Linked DNA regions of Homo sapiens. The protein of the gene in region 1 purifies or fractionates together with the protein of each later gene. This does not show direct contact. Each region holds a gene or a part of one and is shown in the gene's direction. Other genes may lie near its edges. The genes, in order: SEC24A, FGL1, UBE2B, GTF2H2C, TUBB6, TTC1 and STAT5B.

Region 1 (3,500 bases):
GCTGGGACTACAGGTGCCCGCCACCACGCCCGGCTAATTTTTTGTATTTTTAGTAGAGACGGGGTTTCACCGTGTTAGCCAGGATGGTCTCGATCTCCTGACCTCGTGATCCGCCCGCCTTGACCTCCCAAAGTGCTGTGATTACAGGTGTGAGCCAATATTTCTTTGAAAAGCATTTAAAATTCTGTATTGGGATCTGCAGGTTGATACTTCTCAGCAGACAGCCTCAAGTTTATGAAATAGTGTAGGCTTCCAAGTGAAATAGTAATATCAATAGTTACCTTTTTAACCTTATGTATGTTTATATGGCATATACTCCATCAGGCTTGTAAATTGTTAATGGCTGAAACTTTATTTTTCCAAGCCTTTGATCAGACATTGGCCCTGGTGAATGCATTTTGGCCTTGTAAAGATTAAAGCTGCTTCTAGAAACTTAAGTTTCTTTGTGGAAATCTTCTGACCTGCAATTAGTAGAGCTAAAATCCTTCATGTTACTTTTGTTCTAATTCATTTGATACCATGAGTGAGCATCAATCACTTGAAATGAATGAATATGGTGGCACACATCAATCACTTGAATGAATGAATGTGTGGTCCCAGCTACTCGGGGGGCTGAGGTGGGAGAATTGCTTGAGCTCTGGCAATTGAGGCTGCAGTGAGCTATGATTGTGCCACTGCGCTCCGGCCTAGGTGACAGAGTGAGACTTGGTCTAAAAAAAAAATTTAAGTGTTAAAAAAAATGTTATCTATATTATTTTCCAGGCTCTATCAAACTTTGATATCATTATCTGTTTTTCTGTTTTGCTTTTTATTTTTTAGAGATAGGCTGTCTCTCTGTTTCCCAAGCTGGAGTGCAGTGGTGCAATCCTAGTGTCATCAAACTGCTGGGCTCAAGCTATCCTCCCGCCTCACCTCCCTGAGTAGGCGTGCCACAGTGCCTGGCTAATCTTTTGTTCTTTATTTTTTTGTATAGACAGGGTCTTACCCTGTCGCCCAGGGTAGAGTAGGGTAACACGATCATAGCTCACTTAACTGCAACATAGCTTGCTGTAACTGCTGACCTCAAGCCATCCTGCTGCCTGGATTTCCTAAAGTTCTGGGATTACAGGTGTGAGCCACCTAGCCAGGCCTGCATTATCTTGTTTAATCTTCGTAACAGTCTCTTACAGATCTAAAGTATAAGACTTGAATAATTTGCCCAAAGCCACAGTAAAATAGTTTGGGAAAACATTTATTTAAAAACTATTTAAGGGCCAGGCGTGGTGGCTCACGCCTATAATCCTAGCACTTTGGGAGTCCAAGGCAGGAGGATCCACTTGAGGCCAGGAGGCCAGGAGTTCACTAGCCTGAGCAAAATAGCAAGACCCCATCTCTATTTTTTTAAATAATTTTATTTAAAAATAAATAAATACTAAGAGTAGGTGTAGCTTCTCTTAAAAAGGTACATTATCAATAATCTGAAATTTCTTTAGCTATAATAGAAACCCTCAGAGCACCTTGTCTCCACTACAGATTTGGTGAGAGAGACATAAATAAGTGCTGAGGCTGGGCATGGTGGCTCACGCCTGTAAGCCCAGCACTTTGGGAGGCTGAGTCGGGTGGATCACCTGAGGGCAGGAGTTCGAGACCAGCCTGGCCTACATGGTGAAAACCTCGTGTCTACTAAAAATACAAAAATTAGCCAAGTATGGTGGCACGTGCCTGTAATCCCAGCTACTCAGGAGGCTGAGGCAGGAGAAGCGCTTGAAGCTGGGAGGCGGAGGTTGCAGTGAGCTGAGATTGCACCACTACCTTCAGTCTGGGCGACAGAGCAAGACTCCATCTCAAAAAAAAAAAGTGCTGAAACTTATGAAAGAAGGGGAAATAAAAACATATAAACTAATAAAATGAACCTAAAAAGTAACCTTCTTTTTTCTCATTTGAACCTTCAAAGAACCTTCAAATTCCTCATTTTTTTTCTTTTTTCCAACTCATAACTGAGAGTTGGTACCTGATAGTCTGGTATCAAAGCTGTGAGTATTTAGGTTATACTAAGTTTTTAGTTCATATATTAAATTTTCCTGAATTTTTTTAATAGGTCACCTTTAAGCATCATTATACTCATTTAGGGGCTGAGAGGGCAGACTCTGAAACTCTAGCTATCAGTGTCGTAAATAAGAATTCTTCAACTTGAAAAAATGTTCATTTTATGAAATATATGATTATCTGTTCAAAAATAGTCTTCTAAAAGCTGTGAAAATCTCTGTAAGTTTACTTTTATTCGTTAAACATTAGGTTGTAGGTTACATCTTTGTGGCCAGATGTATTTTACATTCTTGTTCATGCTGAGTTGGCCATGTACCTTGCCCCTTTGTTCCTTTGACTTGTCTATACTGCCATAGATATGTGTGACCACTTCTTTGATAAGGGAGTTACATGGCAATAATCTTTGTCTTCACTTTTGTCAACAAGGCACTGATAGTCTTGTTAGCAGTTGTAAGATTCAGTAATAGGCAATTTTTCTTTTTCTTTTTTTTTTTTTTTTTTTTTTTTGAGACGGAGCCTTACTCTGTCGCCCAGGCTAGAGTGCAGTGGCGCAATCTCGGCTCACTGCAACCTCCGCCTCCCAGGTTCAAGCAGTTCTTCTGCCTCAGCCTCCCTAGTAGCTGGGATTACAGGCATGCGCCACCACGCCCAGCTAATTTTTTGTATTTTTAGTAGAAACGGGGTTTCACCATATAGGCCAGGCTGGTCCCAAACTCCTGACCTTGTGATCCACCTGTCTCAGCCTCCCAAAGTGCTGGGATTACAGGCGTGAGCCACTGCACCCAGCCTAATAGGCAATTTTTCAACTTGATACTGGAGTATTTAACAGTATTGGTGAAACATTTTGAAAAATTTCAGGCTGAGCGTGGTGGCTCACGACTGTAATTCCAGCACTTTGAGAGGCCGAGGCGGGTGGATTACGAGGTCAGGAGTTTGAGATCAGCCTCCAGCCTGGCCAATATGGTGAAACCCCATCTCTACTAAAAATACAAAAATTAGCCGGGCGTGGTGGCGCGCACTTGTGGACCCAGCTGCTGCCGGAGGCTGAGGCAGGAGAATCGCTTGAACCCAGGAGGCGGAGGTTGCAGTGAGCCGAGATTGCGCCATTGCACTCCAGCCTGGGGGACAAGAGTGAGACTTCGTCTCAGAAAAAAAAAAAAAAAGTGTTCCTTCTGCCTCGGTCTCCCAAAGTCCTGGTATTATAGACATGAACCACTGCTCCTGGCCCCCTATTTTTATTTTTATTTATTTATTTATTTATTTTGAGACAGAGTCTCGCTCTTGTTGCCCAGGCTGGAGTGCAGTGACGAGATCTCAGCTCATTGCAACCTCTGCCTCGCAGGTTCAAGTGATTCTCCTGCCTCAGCTTCCCAAGTAGCTGGGATTACAGGTGCCCACCACCACACCTGGCTAATTTTTTGTATTTTTAGTAGAGATGGGGTTTCACCATGTTGGCAGGCTTGTCTTGAACTCCT
Region 2 (3,956 bases), on another chromosome or scaffold:
AAATGAACACAAGGCTAAATTATTGCTTGAATGGGGACAAAGCTAAAGGCATACAAGAAGGAAAGATAAGTTTGTATTTCAAAATATGTCATTTTACCACAGAGATCATTATTGAATTAGCCGAATAATCCCATATTTTTGCTTTTGAAATTTAACATTAGCAGCTTGAATTCTCTACAATTATGAATGTATAATTTCCACTTCTTCTGTGTGTGTGCAAATCACTTCAGTCTAACTGGCTTTTTTTTTCCTTCTTTTTTCCAGTAAATCAACAGGATTACCTTTCCCTTAATAATCTTCAAAATGTCCACGTGAAGGACAGGAAGATGTTTAATGGGAAGACCAAACATCGTCAGTGCTCAAGTCCAGTAGATAACAAAGAACAGAAAGAAAACAAAACTTTGGTATTTTACTGGAATCTGAGTGAATAAATAGGGACCACAGGACAAATGGCAAACAACTGCTTGAGTTACATCAGAAGGAAAGAAGAAATGATGAACCCAGATTTCCAGTAAGAAACTGTTACACAATACGATTAATGGAGCTAACAAGTGCCTATTACACATTAGAAAATCTTCTAGAGGATTTTAAAACAAAAGGAACAACTTGTCCAGAGTATAATCGATGCTTCCAGTTAAATTTCACAATTTTGCACCTCAGGGAATACTTTTGTTTTTCTTAGAGAGCAAATAAACTGACCATTTCACCTTGGCAATTATTAACCTGCCTTGTTTTTTATAACTAGGAAAAATTTGGCTTATCTCCATATTTTAGTTGAGATGACATATTAATTCATATTTTTGTGGGTAAAATGTTATTACCCTTAATACAAAGCAAAGTTTCAGCTGGACTTCGTTTTTACTTAATCTTCAATGGAACATTATTGAAGTTACAGTACAAAAATTCTCTGAATGAACATAATAATAAGTTGTAAAATATATATATCTTTATAAAGATATATTATTGGATCTTTCACAAAAAGTCATACAAGTGGGGAAAAAAGAAAAATATCAGAGTATTGGGATTTGTCCTTGAATCTTCTCTTTTAGCTTTCTTTCAGTTAAACCTGTGTCCACATGTTTGTTTCTGGATTGAAGCCAGAATCAACATTGTCCCTATTTCTAATCAAATAATGGAGAAATAATTACAAATTCCCAATGCAGTTACAGGATCCTGGGAAGCAGAGTGTCTGGATGGAACCTGAGCTGGGTCTCTGACTCACTTCTGACTTTAGGCAAGTTATTTAATGTCTCTGCATTTTTGACATGCTTGTAATAATGCTAATTTATTTCACAGGTATGATAGTAACCAAAACTCAGGTAACAACCATTAGCTTTTGCAAGAAGTCAGGTTGACTAGCAAGGAGTCTGCTTCTGCTACTTGGAGAAGAGATTTAGAATTATGTATCTTTTGTTACAGATATACAGATATACAAATATACAGATATACAAATAAGGTATGTTAGAATTACAAATGAGGAAAATGGAAAATTTTAGAGAACTTAAGATATTCTCAGGAATTATTCTAAAGCTAATCAAAGTAATATAATGACTTTCTAAATATGTATAATTACATTTTGAAATGCTTTATTGTTTATATGCTACCAGACTAGGGGGTGCCTTTTTGATTATTGGATTATCTTAATGGTAATGAGATGAACATTTCAGGACATCAAGAGACAGAGGCCTGTCAAAAAAATTTCATTAGCCCTTTATTTTTTACTAAATCTAATGCTAAGCAATATTTATATACCTTATATAATGTATATATAATCTATAATATATACATAATTATGTATAATAATGTTACGTACATACATATACATATATATACAGTGTGCGCAGGTAAAATTATATGATATATAGGTGCATCACCCAGAGCATTTTCAAAACATACTTCCATTTATGCAAGAGCCAGAATCAAACATTGGAATAAGAAAATTTCTTTTTTAAGCTCTAGGCGTTTTTTGTTGTTGTCGTTTGTTTGTTGGTTTTTTGAGATGGAGTCTCACTTTGTATAATTTCCTTTACATTTTGAATGAATTGCATGGGAGTTTGACGTAAATGATAGGTTTACAGTTTCAGTATAAAAAATTAAAAATAAAATGGACTATATGACAATTTTCACTTCAGAAGTCAAAAAACTTCAGAAACATTTTTCTTTATTGCATTTCTTGAGGGATCAACTATATTTAGCTTTGTAAGGCTTTCAGTGAGTATGGATTCTTAAGAAAAATACAAAAGCACAGTTATATTCCATTTTCAGAAAGAGGAAAAAATTTGGAAGGAAATAGCTTAAAAGGAGTCTCTAAGCTTGTGTTTATGGGTACATTTTTAACTCACTGACTTAGGTTATAGTCCTAAGCATTATAGTCCTATAGCGTTTGTGAATGCTAACTTATTAAACATACTTCGTTCAATAACTTTTTCCTTCCTTTTTATTTCTTTTATATATCCTTTTACAATGCTTGCTTAAAACATACCAGTTTTGAAATGTTTGCATGCTACTAATGTACTTCTGTTTTGTAATTGTTTTTAAAAATTATATATTATTTTTAGAACTTTTCATTTACAAATTTAATGTCTTCATCTTTAAATTTAATGCAGCGTAATTAATTAAATTTTTTTTAAATATAGTGGGGAAGGAATTAGAATTTATAGCATTAAAATTATGTAAAATAATATAGTCCACCAAAGAACAGCCATTTGATAACAATTTTAATTTTATAATAATTAAAAGTTTTGATACTGCCTAAGGCAAAAATATTATAAAAGAAATACAACTAATTGTGCAATAAATGAACAGAATAATTTGATACAACTTTACTGTAAGCCAGATGTGCAGAAGAAATAATGGTTTACTATAATGAATGATGGAGACCAGAATTTCAAAGCAAGTTTCTTAATGCTTAGCATTTCTTCAATATTACAGAGAATGTTGGTTAGAATTGCAAAGGAGGAAAATGGAAAATTTTAGAGAACTTAAGATATTCTCAGGAATTATTCTAAAGCTAATCAAAGTAATATAATGACTTTCTAAATGTAAATAATTACATTTTGAAATGCTTTATTGTTTATATGCTACCAGACTAGGGGGTGCCTTTTTGATTATTGGATTATCTTAATGGTAGTGAGATAAACATTTCAGGACATCAAGAGACAGAGGCCTGTCAAAAAAATTTCATTAGCCCTTTATTTTTTACTAAATCTAATGCTAAGCAATATTTATATACCTTATATAATGTATATATAATATAATCTATAATATATACATATTATGTATAATAATGTTATGTTCATACATATACGTATATATACAGTGTGCGTAGGTAAAATTATATGATATATAGGTGCATCATTCAGAGCATTTTCAAAACATACTTCCATTTATGCAAGAGCCAGAATCAAACATTGGAATGAGAAAATTTCTTTTTTAAGCTCTAGGTGTTTTTTGTTGTTGTTGTTTGTTTGTTTGTTTTTTGAGATGGAGTCTCACTCTGTCACCCAGGCTGGAGTGCAGTGGTGTGATCTTGGCTCACTGCAACCTCTGTCTCCCAGGTTCAAGCAATTCTCATGCCTCAACCAACACAGTAGCTGGGATAAAAGGTGTGTGCCACCACACCTGGCTAATTTCTTTGTATTTTTAGTAGGGACGGGGTTTTGCCATGTTGGCCATGCTGGTCTCAAACTCCTGACCCAAGTGATCTGCCTGCCTCAGCCTCTCAACGTGCTGGGATTACAGGCATGAGCCACCACGCCTGGCTAAGCTCTAACTTTTTAAGCTAATTTATTCACTTCTGAAATAAAGTACTTGATCCCACAAATGCATAAGAAAACTTTAATCAAATAAAAAAATTTTTCAACAAATAACATTAAAGCAAAGTCTAGAAGATACAGACATTTCATGATTTTTAATTTTTGACTCCTGAATATTATCTGGGAGCGGATTAAAATAAT
Region 3 (3,500 bases), 280 kb from region 1:
GCCTTTAGCTATGTTTCTGTAGCTAGACTCTTACAAAGCTTCCAAATTTGAGGTCAAGTTGTTTTAATAACTCCTGAATTAAAAGTAATACATGGTCGGGCATGGTGGCTCATACCTATAAACTCAGCACTTTGGGAGGCCAAGGTGGGCGGATCACCTGAGGTCAGGAGTTTGAGACCAGCCCGGCCAACATGGTGAAACCCCATCACTACTAAAAATACAAAAATTAGTCAGGCATGATGGTGGGCACCTGTAATCTCAGCTACTCAGGAGGCTGAGACAGGAGAATCACTTGAACCTGGGAGACGGAGGTTGCAGTGAGCTGAGCTCACAACACTGCACTTCAGCCTGGGTGACAAACCAAGACTCTGTCTCCAAAAAAACAAAGGTAATATGTAAGCCAGGCACAGTGGTGCACACCTGTAGTCCCAGCTACTCCAGAGGCTAAGGCAGGAGGGTGGCTTGAGGCCAGCCTAGGTAACATAGTAAGATCCTGTCTCTACTAAAAGAAATAGATAAAAGTATTATCTATTTATTTGTGGAATTGTGAAAAATAAGAAAAATCTGTTGGCTAAAATTAAGCTTTTCAAAAATACAATTTTGGCCAGGCGTGGTGGTTCATACCTATAATCCCAGCACCTTGGGAGGCCAAGGTGGGAAGGTTGCTTGAGACCAGGAGTCAGAGACCAGCCTGGGCAACATAGCGAGGTCCCATCCCTATAAAAAACAAAAAAAATATCAAGGCATGGTGGCGCACACCTGTAGTCTCAGCTACTTATGGAGGCTGAGGTGAGAGGATCACTTGAGCCCAGGAGGTCAAGGCTGCAGTGAGCCATGACTGTGCCACTGCACTCTAGCCTGGGCAACAGAGCAAGATTCTATCTCAAAAGTACAATTTTGCATATACAAAGTTGGAGTCAATGACCACACACAGTGGTTCATGCCTATTAATTCCAGCACTTTGGAAGGCTGAGGAGGGTGGATTGCTTGAGCCCAGGAGTTCAAGACCAGCTTAGGCAACATGGTGAAACCCTGTCTCTACAAAAAATACAAAAATTAGCTGGGCACAGTGGTGCGTACCTGTATTCCCAGCTACTAGGGAGGCCGAGGTGGGAGAATTGCTGGAGCCTGGGAGGTTGAGGCTGTAGCAAGCCATGATTGTGCCACCGCTCTCCATCCTGGGTGACAAAGCAAGACCCTATCTCAAAAAAAAAAAAGAAAATTGGGATGTTATATATAAAATAAGGTGTTTTTTTTGGTTTGTTTGTTTTTGTTTTTTTAATATACTGTGAACATTTTCCTTAATAAATATTCTGGGCTGAGTGCAGTGGCTCACGCCTGTAATCCTAGCACTTTGGGAGGCCAAGGCAGGTGGATCATGAGGTCAAGAGATCAAGACCATCCTGGTCAACGTGGTGAAACCTCATCTCTACCAAAAATACAAAAATTAGCTGGGCATGGTGGCGCATGCCTGTGGTCCCAGCTACTCGGGAGGCTGAGGCGGGAGAATTGCTTGAACCCGGGAGGCGGAGGTTTCAGTGAGCCAAGATCGCGCCACTGCACTCCAGCCTGGCAACAGAGCAAGACTCCATCTCAAAAAAATAAATATTCTGATACATCATTTTTAATGGCAAAATGTTCTGTTACATAGATTTATCATATTTTTAACCAGTGTCCAATTGTTGATAGTTTTCAGTTGTTTACAATTTTAAATAGCACTTTGAACATTCTTAAAAATCTTAAAAATTTTTTTGTTGTTGAGAAAAACACTTGCTGTGTCACACAGGCTGGAGTACAGTCGTGTGATCTCGACTCATCGCAACCATTACCTCCCGGGTTCAAGTGATTCTCTTGCCTCAGCCTCCTGAGTAGCTGGGACTGCAGATGTGTGCCACCATACCCAGCTTTTTTTTTTTTTTTTTTTTTTTTTTTGAGACAGAGTCTTGCTCTATCGGCCAGGCTGGAGTGCAGTGGCATGATCTCGGCTCACGGCAACCTCTGCCTGTTGGGTTCAAGTGATTCTCTTGCCTCAGCCTCCCAAAGCTGTATATCCAGCTAATTTTTATATTTTTAGTAGAGACGGGGTTTCACCATGTTGGCCAGGCTGGTTTTGAACTCCTGACCTCAGGTGATCCGCCTGCCTTGGCCTCCCAAATGTTGGGATTACAGGTGTGAGCCACCGTGCCCGGCCTCAAAATAAATCTTTTCAGATACTAATTATTATTTTGATTGAGTTTTTTGTTTGTTTTTTTAATTGCTGCATAACAACTAGACTAAGTTTTTTAAACGTGGGGATTACTGGGTCAGAGGCTTGTGTGTTTTTAAAGCTTTTAATGTCATTTTCCATTTTTTTCCTTCAGTGGAATTGTTCTCATTTTCACTTCATAGAGTAGTTTGTTACTATTCTTCACTAAACGATGGCTAATTCCTTTGTAATAAATTTGGTCTTCCTTGACATCTTGCTGTTTACATCTATTACATTTATATTTCTGTATTATAAATTACCATGTGAAAGACTTCTCCAAATTCTTGAAGCTCCTCTTCAGTCTCACAGCCTTTGCTCATTTAAATGTGGCGTTCCCCATCAGCCAACTCACTTTCAGGAAGAACATTTTCAGAGGTCCTCTTGGTCGTGTCTCTAGTACTGCAGAATACATTATAGAGCTCCCTACCCAGAGGAGAGATGTGTTTCGTTTGTGTCTGGAATCAAGGTGACTTTCCAGTAATAGATACTACCTTTGGCACTTCATTTCTGTGAAGTTGCTTTTTCCTTCTAGCTGCCTTTTTTGCTTTTTTTTTTGTCCAAGACAGGTTTAATTTTATTTTCTGTTTCTCTTTTTGGGGAAGTTCCCAGGTCATTTACCATTTATTCCACTGTAGCTTTATCTTGCTTAGACTTGTTATTGAGTCAAACCAAACCAATTATGATAAGGGGGTCTTTAAATAAAGGTGGGAAAGACTGTAGAATGAGTAAGGGATATAAATATAGGGTTATCACTTAAGCAAATTTTTAAGAAACCACAGTGTATTTGGTTTTCACATCTCTTCATATTTATAGCATGGTTTCCCTTTTATTCTGCTGAGTACTTTTTTATAATTTAACTTTCTGGTTTATTTTTTTAAAAACATTTATTGAAATATAATTTACACACCAAGCTGTTGACCCACTTAAATTGTACAACTCAAATGGTTTTTAGCATAATCATAACCATCACCATGACCACTTTAAAAACAACAAAAAGCCCCATAACTATTATCTTAGCAGTCAACTCTGTTTGTCTTAACCCTCCCCGCTTCAGTCCTAGGTAAGTGTTACCCCTAACGTGTTTTCCCTCTAGATTTGACTATTCTGGATATTTCATATAAATGGAATCTTATACTATGTGGTCCTTTGTGACTGACTTCTGTCACCCAGCATAAAGTTTTCAAGGCTCATCTATGTTGTGATATAATAGTATCTGTGATTCATTTTTTATTGTTGAATAATATTCCACTGTATG
Region 4 (3,500 bases), about 65 Mb from region 1:
ACAATTATGTATCCATCTTGCTTTTCACACTTAAGTCATTTAGAAGTCATTCAATATCACCATATCTAGATCAATGTTGTTTTTGAAATTGTTGCATATTTCAGGTATAATTATGGTTTATATAATCAATTGCTTCCTGTTGGATATTTAAGATTTTCTTTTTTTGCTATTAACAAATAATGCTTATATCTATATTTTTGAACATTTGTACAAGTATAAATGCATGGTAAATTCCTAGAGGTAAAATTACTGAGTCAAGAGTTTTACATGTTTTGTGAATTTTGATAGATATTGTAAAGTTGTTCTTCAAAGAAGTTTCATTTATTGTTTTCCCACATTTAGCCAACATTAGGTATTATGAAACTTTTTTATATTGGCCAAAACTCACAGGCAAAAGAAAAAGAAAAAAGTCTCATTGTTTTAGCTTGGTATTTATTTGCTTATGGTTGAGGTTAAATGTAGTAAAAATGAAAAACCCAGTACTATAGAAGATAGAGTTGAAGAAATATTCCAGAAAGTACAATAAAAGGAGTAAAATAAAGAGGTTCAAATAGGAGAGTAAAGATAAGAATACTGGTGGAATTATCCAGAAGGTCCAATATGAGAATGATACGAGAAAAAAAGAAAAAAAGTAGGATAGAAAATCATCAAAGACATAGTTCAAAGAAATTTTATATTGAAGGACAGAACTTTCTAGATTGAAAGGGCCTGTTGGCTGGGAAGGGTGGCTCATAGCTCTAATCCTTGCACTTTGGGAGGCTGAGACTGGGGGATAACTGGAGGCCAGGAGTTCCAGGCCAGCCTGGGTCACACAGCAAGACCTCATCTCTGCAACGAAGATAAAAGAAAGGGACTGCCAAGTGCCTAACGTATTGAAGGAAGGCAGACCCCATAATTGTGAAATTTCAGAATACACAATAAACCATTAACCCTAAACATTTCCAGAGAGGAAAAACTAGGTCACACACAAAGGATCTGGAATTAAAATTGTTTGGCTTCTCATTAGCAACACCGGATGCAGAGAGGGAGCAGTCACCTTCAAAGTTTGTGGTGAAAATTGTTACCAACTTAGATACCCAGCCAAACTATCAGTTAAGTGTAGGTAGAATAAAGACATTTTCAGACTTGTAAGGTCTCAAAAAGAGATTTTTCTGGGGAAGGTCTGGAAGAGGTAGGTGATTCAAAGGAACTGAGAAGGAGAATGACATGGGATCTAGTAATATGTATCTAATTCAAAACAGGCTGAAGAACGGCCTAGGATGATGGTAAGGAGAAATTCCAGAATGATACCTGTGTGTCACATATGGGGAACCGTCCAGTTTGGAGACAGTCAGGATGCTCCAGGAGAGAGATCACCAAGGGGATGAAAACTGCAGAACTCCTGATGTATTTGAACATATCGAGAGGACAGTTAGACTATTCCGGAGAAGATTGGGCCTGAATTAGTGTCAATTATATAGGAAACTAACCTTGGGAATAGCAACACAGTATTTCCAGGAAAAAAAAAATGTTTTAAATAGGGGAAAACTTATGGCTTAGCTGAGAATATTTTTATAGGCATAGTAAACTAAACATTGATTATTGTTCTATCCAAAAGGAAGACTTCACTATGTAGAAAGAATTGAGAATGACACTAGTTAAATATTTATGCATTACTGGGTTCAAGATGATTGAAAGATAATTAAATTCTCTTCTTTCATAGTTGGAGATTTATAGCCAATAACTGTGAAGAATCACAAAGTAGCACTTATTAGAATAAGTGACTATCAAACAAACGTTAGAAAGTGCTTCTGGCTGGGCATGGTGGCTCATGCCTGTAATCCTAACACTTTGGGAAGCCAAGATAGGAGGATTGCTTGAGCCCAGGCATTCGAGACCAGCCTGGGCAATATAGCGAGACCCTGCCTCAATAAAAAATTAGCCAGGCATGGAGATACATGCCTGTAGTCCCAGCTACTCAGGAGGCTGAGGCAGGAGGATCACTTGAGCCCAGGAGGTTGAGGCTGCAGTGAGCTGTGATAGCACCTCAGCACTCCAGCCTTTGAGACAAAGCAAGACCCTGACTCGAAAACAAAGAAAAATAAAGCATGCTCACAGTTAACCTTAATGAAAATAAAAACTAAATTTTGGGCTGTCAGATGACCTTGTATATACTGTGGAATTTTTTTTTAAATTATTGCTATTCTTTTTTTTTTTTTTTTTTTTTTTTGTGAGTCAGAGTTTTGCTCCCGTTGCTCAGTGTGGAGTGCAATGACACCATCTCGGCTCACTGCAACCTCCGTGTCCTGGGTTCAAGCGATTCTCCTGCGTCAGCCTCCTGAGTAGCTGGGATTATAGGCGCCTGCCATCACGCCCAGCTAATTTTTGTATTTTTAGTAGAGACGGGGTTTCGCCACGTTGGCCAGGCTGGTCACGAACTCCTGACCTGAGGTGATCCACCCGCCTCGGCCTCCCAAAGTGCTGGGATTATAGGCGTGAGCCACTGTGCCTGGCCTATTGGTATTCTTAACTCTTTTTCCTGAAAGTCATGTGTAAAGACAAGTACATATTAATTAAAGGATTCTAGTTAGTGAGATTTTGTTGAACTATTTTAATGAGTAAATTCTAAGAAAAAACATTGTTAAACTTTTTTTTCAGATTTTGTTATGGATGTCAGGGGGAATTGAAAGACCAACATGTAAGTTCTTTGGCTTTCTAAATATTAAGTAATGTACAAGAAATATTGAAATCAATGGTACTATAAGTTTTCAACAGGTTGTTAAAGACCAGGCTCATATCAGTTTATTTCTTGTAAAGATAATGACAATAGGTGAAGGTAAAATAGGAACAAAATAGTTTAAATAGTAGTTTTGTTATTCTGCATTCTAATTTTTGCTATAAAGTATTTTGTAATTCATCTTTTTAAAACTTTTTATTAAAAATTTTTTAATTTTTTTCCTCTTTTTTTAAATTCTTTGATTGTTTTGTCTACTTTGGTACACCCTTGTAAAACATGTAATTTGTCTTTAGCTTTCAAGCTAAACTGCATTTAGTCTGAAAGTATTTAAAATATTTTCTTCATATTATACTTTAAGCTGTGTGATAACACATTGAAATTGTTTAAGGTGGCCACAGATAATAGGTGATTCTTCCATTATGCCAATGAGAAAATACTTTTTTAAATTTTGAAGAGGGCCAACTTTAATAAATAAATTTGTATAGATGTAAATAATATGGATCACTGTCTAGCTTTAATTTTTAATTTAGTTACATGTTCATATTTAAAACTATATATATTATATAAAATAATAATTAGAAGTATTGCTCTTCCACTGTCACAATTTATAAAGTAATTTTATTAAATTTTATATACCTCTTTGACATCAGTAGTTTACTCTTAACTGGAACCACTTTTTGAATCATTTGACAGTTTTTTGGTTTTATTTTCTGAGACAGACTCTTGCTCTGTCACCCAGGTTGTAGTGCAGTGATGCAATCTTGGCTCACTGCAACCTCTGCCT
Region 5 (3,500 bases), on another chromosome or scaffold:
GGTGCTGCCTGCTAGGTTGGGTGGGGAAGGGGTGGAGAGAAGTTGGTGGGGGCTTAGGAAGGACGGTGACCATTTTCTCGCCTACTAAGAGAAGGCAGTCAGCTAGGATTCACTGTGCAACACAGCTGGGCAGGAAGAAGAGAATCCCCTGTTTGTAAGAGAACAGTCACATACTAGATGCTGTCTACGGCTTGTGAAAAACACAAGGAAACGGCCACCTGAGAGTACTAAAGTGGCCAGGCCCACGGGGTGTGCTGCAAGCACACAGCAGGCATCTGCCTAGCCCGGCCCCTCTGCAGAGCCATAGGGCCTGCCATGCCAGTGACACTGGGCTTTGGACTGCCAAATGGGGCAAAGACAATAGGAGAGAAAGGCTGAGCTGATTTCTCAGTGGGACTGAGACGGAGATCTAGGGAGGCTGATGCTGCAGACAAGTGCAAGGGCCCTCTGTGGTCAGTTTCAGCTGGCCAGTTCTGCTCTCTGGAAACTTCAGTGTTCAATATTTAAATGTGTGGTTTTGTTTGTTTGTTTGTTTGAGATGGGGTCTCGCCTTGTCACCCAGGCTGGAGTGCAGTGGTGTGATCATAGCTCACTGTAGCCTCAAACTCCTGGGCTCAAGCAGTCCTCCCACTTCACCCTCCTGTGCTAGGATTGCAGGTGTGAGCTCCCATAGCTGGTCTTATACAAAAAAAAGTGTTTAATGTTTTCATGTCAAAGTTAAAACAAAGTGCTTGTACATGGTTTTTTCAAACAGTACACATAGATTGTGTATACAGTGCAGAAAGGGAAAGCTGTCATCCCTTCTACTGGTGGCCCCTGAGGTTTTATTCCCTAGGGGGATAACCGAGTGTGTAGACAGTTGTGCTGTGTCCTGCTGACATTTTTCCTTTTTCCTTTTTTTTTTTTTTCTTTTTTTTTTTGAGACGGAGTTTCGCTCTTGTTGCCCAGGCTGGAGTGCAATGGCGCAATCTCGGCTCACTGCAACCTCCACCTCCTGGGTTCAAGCAATTCTCCTGCCTCAGCCTCTGGAGTAGCTGGGATTACAGGCACCTGCCACCACACCCAGCTAATTTTTTGTATTTTTAGTAGAGATGGGGTTTCCCCATATTGGCCAGGCTGGTCTCGAACTCCTGACCTCAGGTGATCCTCCTGTCTCGGCCTCCCAAAAGTACTGGGATTACAGGTGTGAGCCACCGCGCCCGGCCCTGCTGACATTTTTCTGTGTCCATGTGCACCTAGGTGAGCACACAGAGCTGATTTTGTCTGGGGAAAATGGGATCCTGCTATACACACCATTTTGCAGCCTTTTGAAAAATTCATTAATGTATCTCAGACATCCTCCGTGACAGTCACAGTGCCTACCATTGTATATGTCATCATTTAGTAATTTCCCACTTACTGATGACATTTTAAAATTTTTCATTAAAGAAGAGCTGGGCTCAGGCGTTCACACCTGCCATCCCAGCACTTTGGGAGGCCAAGACAGGATGATCACTTGAGTTCAAAAGTTTAAGACCAACATGGACAACATAAGGGGACCCTCTCTACAAAATTTTTCTTTTTTTTGACGGAGTCTCACTCTGTCGCCCAGGGTGGAGTGCAGTGGTGCGATCTTAGCTCATTGCAAGCTCCACCTCCCGGGTTCACGCCATTCTCCTGCCTCAGCCTCCGGAGTAGCTGGGACTACAGGCGCCCGCCACCATGCCATGCTAATTTTTTTTATATTTTTGGTAGAGACGGGGTTTCACCATGTTAGCGAGGATGGTCTCAATCTCCTGACCTCGTGATCCACCCGCCTCGGCCTCCCAAAGTGCTAAGATTACAAGCGTGAGCCACCGTGCCCAGCCAAAAAAATGTTTTTTTAATTGTCCCAGCTACTCAGGAGGCTGAGGCAGGAGGATCCCTTGAGCCCAGGAGTTGGAGGCTGCAGTGGCTATGATTGCACCACTGCACTCCAGCCTGGGTAGCAGTGGAAGACCCCATTTCTAAAATAATAATAATAAAAAATTCCTTTTTTATACTTTAATATTCACTTATCATAAAATAAATGTTTTAGTTAAAATGTCATAAAGCTAGAAATGAACTCTCTTAGGACCCCATCCTTCAAAGACAACCTGTGCTTTCTTAATTGCATTGTAAATGTTTTAATAAAGTAATTTTTTTTTTCATTTTGCTAGCTAGCTAGGTAAAACATTTTCATGGTTTAGGACTTAAAAGGAACAAAAGGGTATATAGTGAAAAGTTGATCTCCTTCCTACCCCGAACTAGTGTTAAGATTCTTGAATGTCCTTTCAGGTATGTTCAGGCAGACGCATATATTTACACACATACAATGGAGCCAGCTGTATACACTGTTTAGTACCCTAGTGTTCCTCCCTGGCTCCCCAGCAACGTATTTTGAAGATCTTTCCATTTCACAAGTATGGCTGCCTCATTCCTGTTGATGGCTGATAGTATCCTCTGCAGAGATACCGCCGTGGATTTAACCAGTCTTCAGTTGATAGGTATTTGGGTTGTTCCCCTTTTTATTATTATAAATTGTTCCTCAGTAAACATTTGTATATATGTCATTTTGCACATGTATGGGTCTATCTAGAAAAACTTACAGAAGTGTAATTGCTGTGTCTAGGGGGATAATTTTGATAGCTGTAGCTCAGCTGTTCTACAGCCCACTGCCCTTGCTATCTCCAGTAGCTCCCGTGGGAAGTGGCCTTCCCCAAACCCTCAGCAGTGCAACTCAGGTGTTTGGATCTCTGTCAGTTTCACAGCAGAAAAATAGAATCTCCTTGTTTTAATTTGCGTTTCCCTTATGAGAAGGGTTTAGCATTATTTCCAGTACCTAAGCTATTGGAATTTCCTTTCCTGTGAGCTGTATGTTTATAGCCTTTGCCTGTTTTCCTAATGGCTGTTGTTTTTCTTACTGATTTAAGGACTTCTTTAGATATTGAAGGAGGGTATCCTTTATATGTGATATGAGTTATTAACAGTCCAGTACATACATTTTAACATTAAGTTCAGTACACTTAATGAAGAATCACAGAATTTGTTTTTTCTTGCACTGAACACCTACAGTGTGTAGCACTGATAAATGCTTCATCCCCCCCAAGAGTAGAGCCACTGTGTAAGGCTGCACTTGTTATGTACTGCAGAAGCCAGGGGTGCCATCAGTAGACCTCATTGTGAGCAGGCCCGTGTCCCAAATTGCATGGGAGCCCCTTGTCCACTAATTAAAGATTGACAAGTGAAAGGCAGCTTGCTTACCCGATGTAGCACTTGGCAGCTCTCAGAGGCAGCCTTGGTGGTTTCACTGCTTCATAGTTCAGTGCCCCCAGGGTGAGTGCAGCATCAGGGATGGACCTGCCCACGTGAAACCAGAGAGGCTGGTCTTTGGCAGTGGCTGTGAATTGTTGCCACCAGCCGTGTGTAGACAAAAGTCAAGTTGGAGTAAGTGGGGAGAGGTCTGTATAATGCAATGCAAGTTTTTATGACTTGAATTAGTT
Region 6 (2,452 bases), about 25 Mb from region 1:
CATTGGACACACAGCTCGCCTGCCTATCTCTGTGCATTGGCTCACGCTGTTTGGGCTTGCACGGACAGCACCTCTGTCTCATATGGTTGCAGTCCTATGGCCTTTGGTGCCTGGTTCAAGTGTAAACTCTTAGACAAAGATAGACCAAATCTCTTCTTTCCTCCACCCCTTTCCTGTCTTCCTGCCCCAGCCAAAGGAATCTTCCCCTTCCTGACTCTCGTAGCATTTTATAACTCAGCTACATATGAATTTGGTTTTGTGTGTATGTCTTTTCTTCCTTGTCAAATTCTAAGCTTGTTTTGGTGTATAGACCATGTCATGTATCTTTGCATCTCTACCACACATAGCAAGGTGCCACACACATGTAATTAGTACATGTTGGTTGAATTAATCTATGTCAGGTGACCTTAGGTCTTCTCTAACGCAGAGACTATTTATTTGTGTGCCTTTTATTATGTGTCTACTACCTGCCAGGTATTATATATATGTAATCTCATTTAGAAAGCAGAATTTCGCATTTTCTTTTTTTTTTTCCCCCTTAAGTGATGGTCGGTGAAACTAATGTGAAATGTTATAAAGGCAGAGATACTGGAATTGAAGGAAAAAGAATAATTATCTATGTGTTAGTTTGGGTCATCCAAAAAACAGATGCCAAGATAGGATTAAAAGTACAAGAGATTTACTGGGGGAAACACCTGCAAGGGAAAATGGGGCTGGGAGCTGGAGGCTGTTGGCAGAGTTGGCAGACCCCTGTGGAGGAGGAAAGGCCGGGGGAGCGGGGAAGTTTTCCACTGGAGTGTGGTGCTGAGAAAGTTTCAGCAAAGCCATTGGGGAGCCAGTGCTGCCCCTCAGACGAGTCCCTCCCATGCTCAGGCATTGGCTGGAAGCAGCAGGTGGGAAGGGTGGCCTCTGCATGAATGTGCTGATGGATTTTAGAGTGCAGCCACTCTGTCCCCTGCATTTGGAGAAATACATCTTCATGACTGCCACACCATAGAATCAACCAAGCTAAAAGTTCAAAGGTGGCTTGTGGCACACAGGCCCTTTAGCCAGTTAGGCAAAACGAGGGCCTGGGAAAGAGAATTCTTCCTCTCGTCGGCAGTTTGAATATTTGCAGTCTTAGCTTGGAATGGTCTTTCTGCACTAGAGGGAAACCTCCTTTAGTGCAGACCAGCCTAAAGCCAAGCCATTGCTGCCTGAGGAAGCTGCCATCTCTGGAGCACGGTGACATGCCACCACCCTGGACCTATTCCCATCCCCCGGAGCACTGTGGCATGTAGCCTCTTCGTGCCACTGCAAGGTCAGAAAGCACCTCTGGGCACACCTCCGTCTTTTGGGTCTGCCTCCCCACTAGACTGAGCATTGTGCATAGAAGCTACTTTTATTCTTTACATCCCAGTGGCTTACATGATAGATGCCAAGTAAAATTTCCAGTTTGTACTTTAAATTGTTTTTCTGGCACTGGAGATGGGCTTGCAGTGATCCCTCCATCCATGTAATGGCCCTGGGCTCAGTGGACCATCCAGAGTAGGCTTCTCCACCATGGAGCTGCCCCTCCTCAGGAGTCTGATGTGAGTGGCTCTTGATACTCATTCTCACTTCACTCACTCCATATCACAAGAGCCAAGGATTTCCCAGTACCAACATTTTCTTGGGCTGCTTTTGATGGTTTTTTTTTTCCCCCTTCCTGTCCTCTTTTTCCAACCCCAGAACAAACTGCCAGCGTTCCTGGTTGGTGTTGCTAACTCAGGTCACCCTGAGGCTGCCCTGTCTTTCTCTTGCTTGTTGTGAGCCCCTCCCTCTACGCCCATGTGCCCGAGGCTGTGCCGCTGCCTTGTGCAGGCACCCAGGGTTTATGCCAGTGATTTCCTGACACAAGCAGCAGCACAGAACGTGTGTGTCCCAGGTTTAGGTTTGGGAGGCCTGCCTGGAGAACAGCCATCCCAGGTTCTGGGAGCTTTCTCAATTTACTGTTTTATCCAAAGATGGGTTGGCCTTTCTCTGGACATAGTGAGCTTCCTTGGGCTAGTTCTTAAGCCTGAGACTAAAAGTTCTCACCATGAGTTATTAGGGAGGCCTGTAAAATGTAAAGGCCATGCGTTTTTTTTGCTCTGTTACCCAGGCTGGAGTGCAATGGTATGATCATGGCTCACTGCAGCCCTGAACTCCTTGGGCTCAAGCAATCCTCCTAACTCAGCCTCTGCATAGCTGTGACAACAGGTGTGTGCCACCACACCTAGCTAATTTTTAAATTTTTGTAGATACAGGGTCTCCCTATGTTGCCCAGGCTGGTCTCAAACTCCTAGGCTCACATGATCCTCCTGCCTCAGCCTCCCAAAGTGCTGGGATTACAGGTGTGAGCCACTGCACCCAGCCAAGGCCATGCACCTTTAAGTTCTTTACCTGGGCTTTACTCTAAGATGGGAGGCCTCAGAGTGAGAAAAGCTGCTAA
Region 7 (3,500 bases), on another chromosome or scaffold:
CACTTCAGGAATATGGTGAGGGTGGAAGAAGAGGAAGAATGAATTTTTCCCTGGTCTTTGAGGGGAACAACTTATATCTTACGTTTCATCTTATGTTTCTTCTTTGTAGTCCCTGAAACGAATTAAGAGGTCAGACCGTCGTGGGGCAGAGTCGGTGACAGAAGAAAAATTTACAATCCTGTTTGAATCCCAGTTCAGTGTTGGTGGAAATGAGCTGGTTTTTCAAGTCAAGGTAAAGCCTTCCCTCAGCTCTGCGTGTGCGTGTGCGTGTGTGTGTGTGGTGTACTTTATGTTACAAAATATTTTTTTTTTATCACATAGCATCTTCTTCTTTTTGACTGTTGGTAAACTGAAAATGGACTGACCTCACCCTGAGAACTGTTTCACTTAGGTTCTCTTAAGACATGAACAGAGGCCAAGCACAGTGGCTCATGCTTGTAATCCCAGCACTTTGGTAGGTTGAGGCAGTCAGGTCACTTGAGGTCAAGAGTTCAAGACCAGCCTGGCTAACACAGTGAAACCCCATCTCTACTAAAAAGTACAAAAATTAGCCAGGCGTGGTGGCACGTGCCTATAATCCCAGCTACTCAGGAGAATCACTTGAACCTGGGAGGCTGAGGTTGTAATGAACCGAGATTGTGCCACTGCACTCCAGCCTGGGTGAAAGAGTGAGACCCTGTCTCAAAAAAAAAAAAAAAAGACATGAACAAGCAAGGCCCAGTGCAGTGGCTCACATCTGTAATCCTAACACTTTGGGAGGCCAAGGCAGGAGGATTGCTTGAGTTCAGGAGTTCCAGACCAGCCTGGAGCTGGTTGTGAGACCCCGTCTCAACAACAACAACAAATTAAAAAATAAAAAATAAAACATGAACAAACAATAATGAACTGAACTAGCTGGAGAGGTAGACTACAAAATGGATATGAGAAACATTACTTGGGATGAATTTGAGTAAAGGTTGTGGTAAGTTTTAAATTTGTTATTTGTATTTTCTTCCCAGAAATATCTCCAATAGTCTTTTCTCTCTCCTGTTCTCCATGTAACTTTGAGAAACTTTATCCTTCAGAAATATCTAAGCAACATTGCTTGTAAAATATTTAAAATTTCTAAGATTGTGCCAGTATGAAAAGTCATATTATTCCTGGGGCCATTTAGATTCTGTGTCTGAGAGGAACATTAACTGAAACTTGGAAAATAAAAGTGTTGTTATAATAAGAAAAAAAAAAAAGAGAGAAGGAGAAGAACTTGAGGCTCGTGGGCGCTCAGCCTTCTCTTGTGTCTTTTTAGACCCTGTCCCTGCCAGTGGTGGTGATCGTTCATGGCAGCCAGGACAACAATGCGACGGCCACTGTTCTCTGGGACAATGCTTTTGCAGAGCCTGTGAGTGTATTCCTCGGGCATGTGGGTCCCAAAATCAATGCCGGTGTCATGAATCTCATTTATGTATTATCCTTTTAAAAAGCATAGGAAAAGGCCGGGTGCAGTGACTCACACTTGTAATCCCAGCACTTTGGGAGGCCGAGGCGGTTGGATCACCTGAGGTCAGGAGTTCGAGACCAGCCTGGCCAACATAGCAAAATCCTGTTTCTATTAAAAAATACCGAAAAATTAGCTGGGTGTGGTGGCACATGCCTGTAGTCCCAGCTACTTGGGAGGCTGAGGCACGACAATCACTTGAACCCGAGCGGCAGAGGTTGCAGTGAGCCGAGATCGCACCACTGCACTCCAGCCTGGGTGACAGAGTGAGACTCCATCTCAATAATAAAAAAAAAGCATAGGAAAAAAGACGCTGTTTTCTTTAGTGGGAGGCAGAATAGAAAGAATGTGGAAAGTGGAAAGAACATGGGCTTGACATCGGGCCAGGGTTTGAACTGAGACTCCACCATTTCCTCACTCCATGACCACATGGGCAGTTCACTTTACCTCTCTGAGCCTGAGTTTCCAGCAAGTGTCTGCAGCACAGGGATACTCTTGCTCTACAGCATTGTTAGGAAGATTAAATTAGATAACATAGAAAATGCTTGCCACACAGTCAGTACTCAGTAAATATTATTTTGAATCCTTGGGTGAAACTATGAATGGGATTTGGGACTCCTAGGTTCACTCCAGAGGTTAGATCTCTCCAGAGGCTTACTTTAGCATAGAAGTTGCTTCATACCCTCTTCCTTTCAATAAATGAAGATGCTGTTAAATGTCTTTTCCAAATTTTAGTTTCTGTGATTCATTCTAGGTCTCATGAAGAATGAGATACTTTGCCTCAAGGAAGATATAATTTGGTGGATTTATGCACCCAAACGCTATCTGAATCCCACTAGCATGCTGCTCGATGAGCATTTTAAAGATCTCATAGGCTGGGTGCGGTGGCTCATGCCTATAATCCCAGCACTCCAGGAGGCCAAGGCAGGCAGATCCCTTGAGCTCCAGACTAGCCTAGGCAGCATAGCAAAATCCTGTCTCTACAAAAAATACCAAAAAATTAGCCAGGCATGGTACACCAGCCTCTAGTCCCAGCTACTTGGGGGGGGCTGAGGCGGGAGGATCGCCTGAGCCCAGGAGGTCCAGGCTGCAGTGAGCCAAGATTGTGCCACTGTACTCCAGCCTGGGTGACAAAGCGACACCCTGTCTCAAAGAAAAAAATTTTTTTAGTAGGCAAAGGTCATTTGTTACATATTTCCAATAGAGATTAGTCCATAAAAGCATGATAAAAGGGTTATCATTTGGGACATAAGAGCATGTCCTTCTCTAAGTATATCCAACAAACCTTGATTATGTTTTGTTTTGTGGCTGTTAGAATATAGGATTTGACTGTTAGTTCAACAGCTCATTTACAAAACAGCATGGACAGCATGGGTTACCTTCCAGTTGTGTGTAAAGAAGGTGAAATGGAACCTTCTGGCTCACGTGGAGAGGCTTAACGTTTCCCAACACTCCTCTTTAGAGAAAAAGTATTTTACTGCAAAGGTGAGATTTTTAAGAGATTTACCATACTTCACTTACAAACTCTGAATCAGAAGCTCCTTTTTGAAACTGTCTGTCTGCCTCTTGTCCTGATAAGCCTCCTAGATAAGATTGCCACATCTCTTGTTTCCTTCCCTGCCTGTCCACAGATCTCACTCTCTGTGTACCTTTGGCATCTCCTGCACCATGTAATTACTCAAGTATCTTGTCTAAATAAATAAGCATTTTTAACATTCTCAGCTATGTTAATGACTACTTACATCTTATGCTATTTTTTTTTTTTTAATTTTTTTGAGACAGAGTCTTGCTCTGTCACCCAGGCTGGAGTACAGTGGCATTATCTCGGCTCACTGCAGCTTCTGCCTTCTGGATTCAAGCGATTCTCCTGCCTCAGCCTCCCGAGAAGCTGGGATTACAGGTGCATGCCACCACGCCCAATTAATTTTTTATATTTTTAGTAGAGACCAGGTCTCACCATGTTGGCCAGGCTGGTCTCGAATTCTTGACCTCAAGTGATCCACCCACCTCGGCCTCCCAAAGTGCT

What was found.
Region 2: the proteins of SEC24A (region 1) and FGL1 purify together in Homo sapiens (co-immunoprecipitation; one large-scale study listed by IntAct). This does not show direct contact.
Region 3: the proteins of SEC24A (region 1) and UBE2B fractionate together in Homo sapiens (co-fractionation; one large-scale study listed by BioGRID). This does not show direct contact.
Region 4: the proteins of SEC24A (region 1) and GTF2H2C fractionate together in Homo sapiens (co-fractionation; one large-scale study listed by BioGRID). This does not show direct contact.
Region 5: the proteins of SEC24A (region 1) and TUBB6 fractionate together in Homo sapiens (co-fractionation; one large-scale study listed by BioGRID). This does not show direct contact.
Region 6: the proteins of SEC24A (region 1) and TTC1 fractionate together in Homo sapiens (co-fractionation; one large-scale study listed by BioGRID). This does not show direct contact.
Region 7: the proteins of SEC24A (region 1) and STAT5B fractionate together in Homo sapiens (co-fractionation; one large-scale study listed by BioGRID). This does not show direct contact.

The regions. Positions count from the first base shown.
Region 1 is NC_000005.10:134,662,285-134,665,784, forward strand, and holds part of SEC24A (protein transport protein Sec24A), read left to right. Parts: intron 1-3,500. UniProt on the Homo sapiens protein: Component of the coat protein complex II (COPII) which promotes the formation of transport vesicles from the endoplasmic reticulum (ER).
Region 2 is NC_000008.11:17,892,725-17,896,680, reverse strand, and holds the start of FGL1 (fibrinogen-like protein 1 precursor), read left to right. Parts: upstream 1-1,156; 5' UTR 1,157-1,234; intron 1,235-1,276; exon of another isoform or gene 1,277-1,456; intron 1,457-3,956. UniProt on the Homo sapiens protein: Immune suppressive molecule that inhibits antigen-specific T-cell activation by acting as a major ligand of LAG3. Responsible for LAG3 T-cell inhibitory function. Binds LAG3 independently from MHC class II (MHC-II).
Region 3 is NC_000005.10:134,381,569-134,385,068, forward strand, and holds part of UBE2B (ubiquitin-conjugating enzyme E2 B), read left to right. Parts: intron 1-3,500. UniProt on the Homo sapiens protein: E2 ubiquitin-conjugating enzyme that accepts ubiquitin from the ubiquitin-activating enzyme E1 and transfers it to a E3 ubiquitin-protein ligase. In vitro catalyzes 'Lys-11'-, as well as 'Lys-48'- and 'Lys-63'-linked polyubiquitination.
Region 4 is NC_000005.10:69,587,691-69,591,190, forward strand, and holds part of GTF2H2C (general transcription factor IIH subunit 2-like protein), read left to right. Parts: intron 1-2,637; coding exon 2,638-2,677; intron 2,678-3,500. UniProt on the Homo sapiens protein: Component of the core-TFIIH basal transcription factor involved in nucleotide excision repair (NER) of DNA and, when complexed to CAK, in RNA transcription by RNA polymerase II.
Region 5 is NC_000018.10:12,318,241-12,321,740, forward strand, and holds part of TUBB6 (tubulin beta-6 chain), read left to right. Parts: intron 1-2,295; exon of another isoform or gene 2,296-2,422; coding exon of another isoform or gene 2,423-2,504; intron 2,505-3,500. UniProt on the Homo sapiens protein: Tubulin is the major constituent of microtubules, a cylinder consisting of laterally associated linear protofilaments composed of alpha- and beta-tubulin heterodimers.
Region 6 is NC_000005.10:160,061,139-160,063,590, forward strand, and holds part of TTC1 (tetratricopeptide repeat protein 1), read left to right. Parts: intron 1-2,403; exon of another isoform or gene 2,404-2,452.
Region 7 is NC_000017.11:42,213,892-42,217,391, reverse strand, and holds part of STAT5B (signal transducer and activator of transcription 5B), read left to right. Parts: coding exon 1-15; intron 16-109; coding exon 110-232; intron 233-1,285; coding exon 1,286-1,378; intron 1,379-2,789; coding exon of another isoform or gene 2,790-2,810; exon of another isoform or gene 2,811-2,860; intron 2,861-3,500. UniProt on the Homo sapiens protein: Carries out a dual function: signal transduction and activation of transcription. Mediates cellular responses to the cytokine KITLG/SCF and other growth factors. Binds to the GAS element and activates PRL-induced transcription.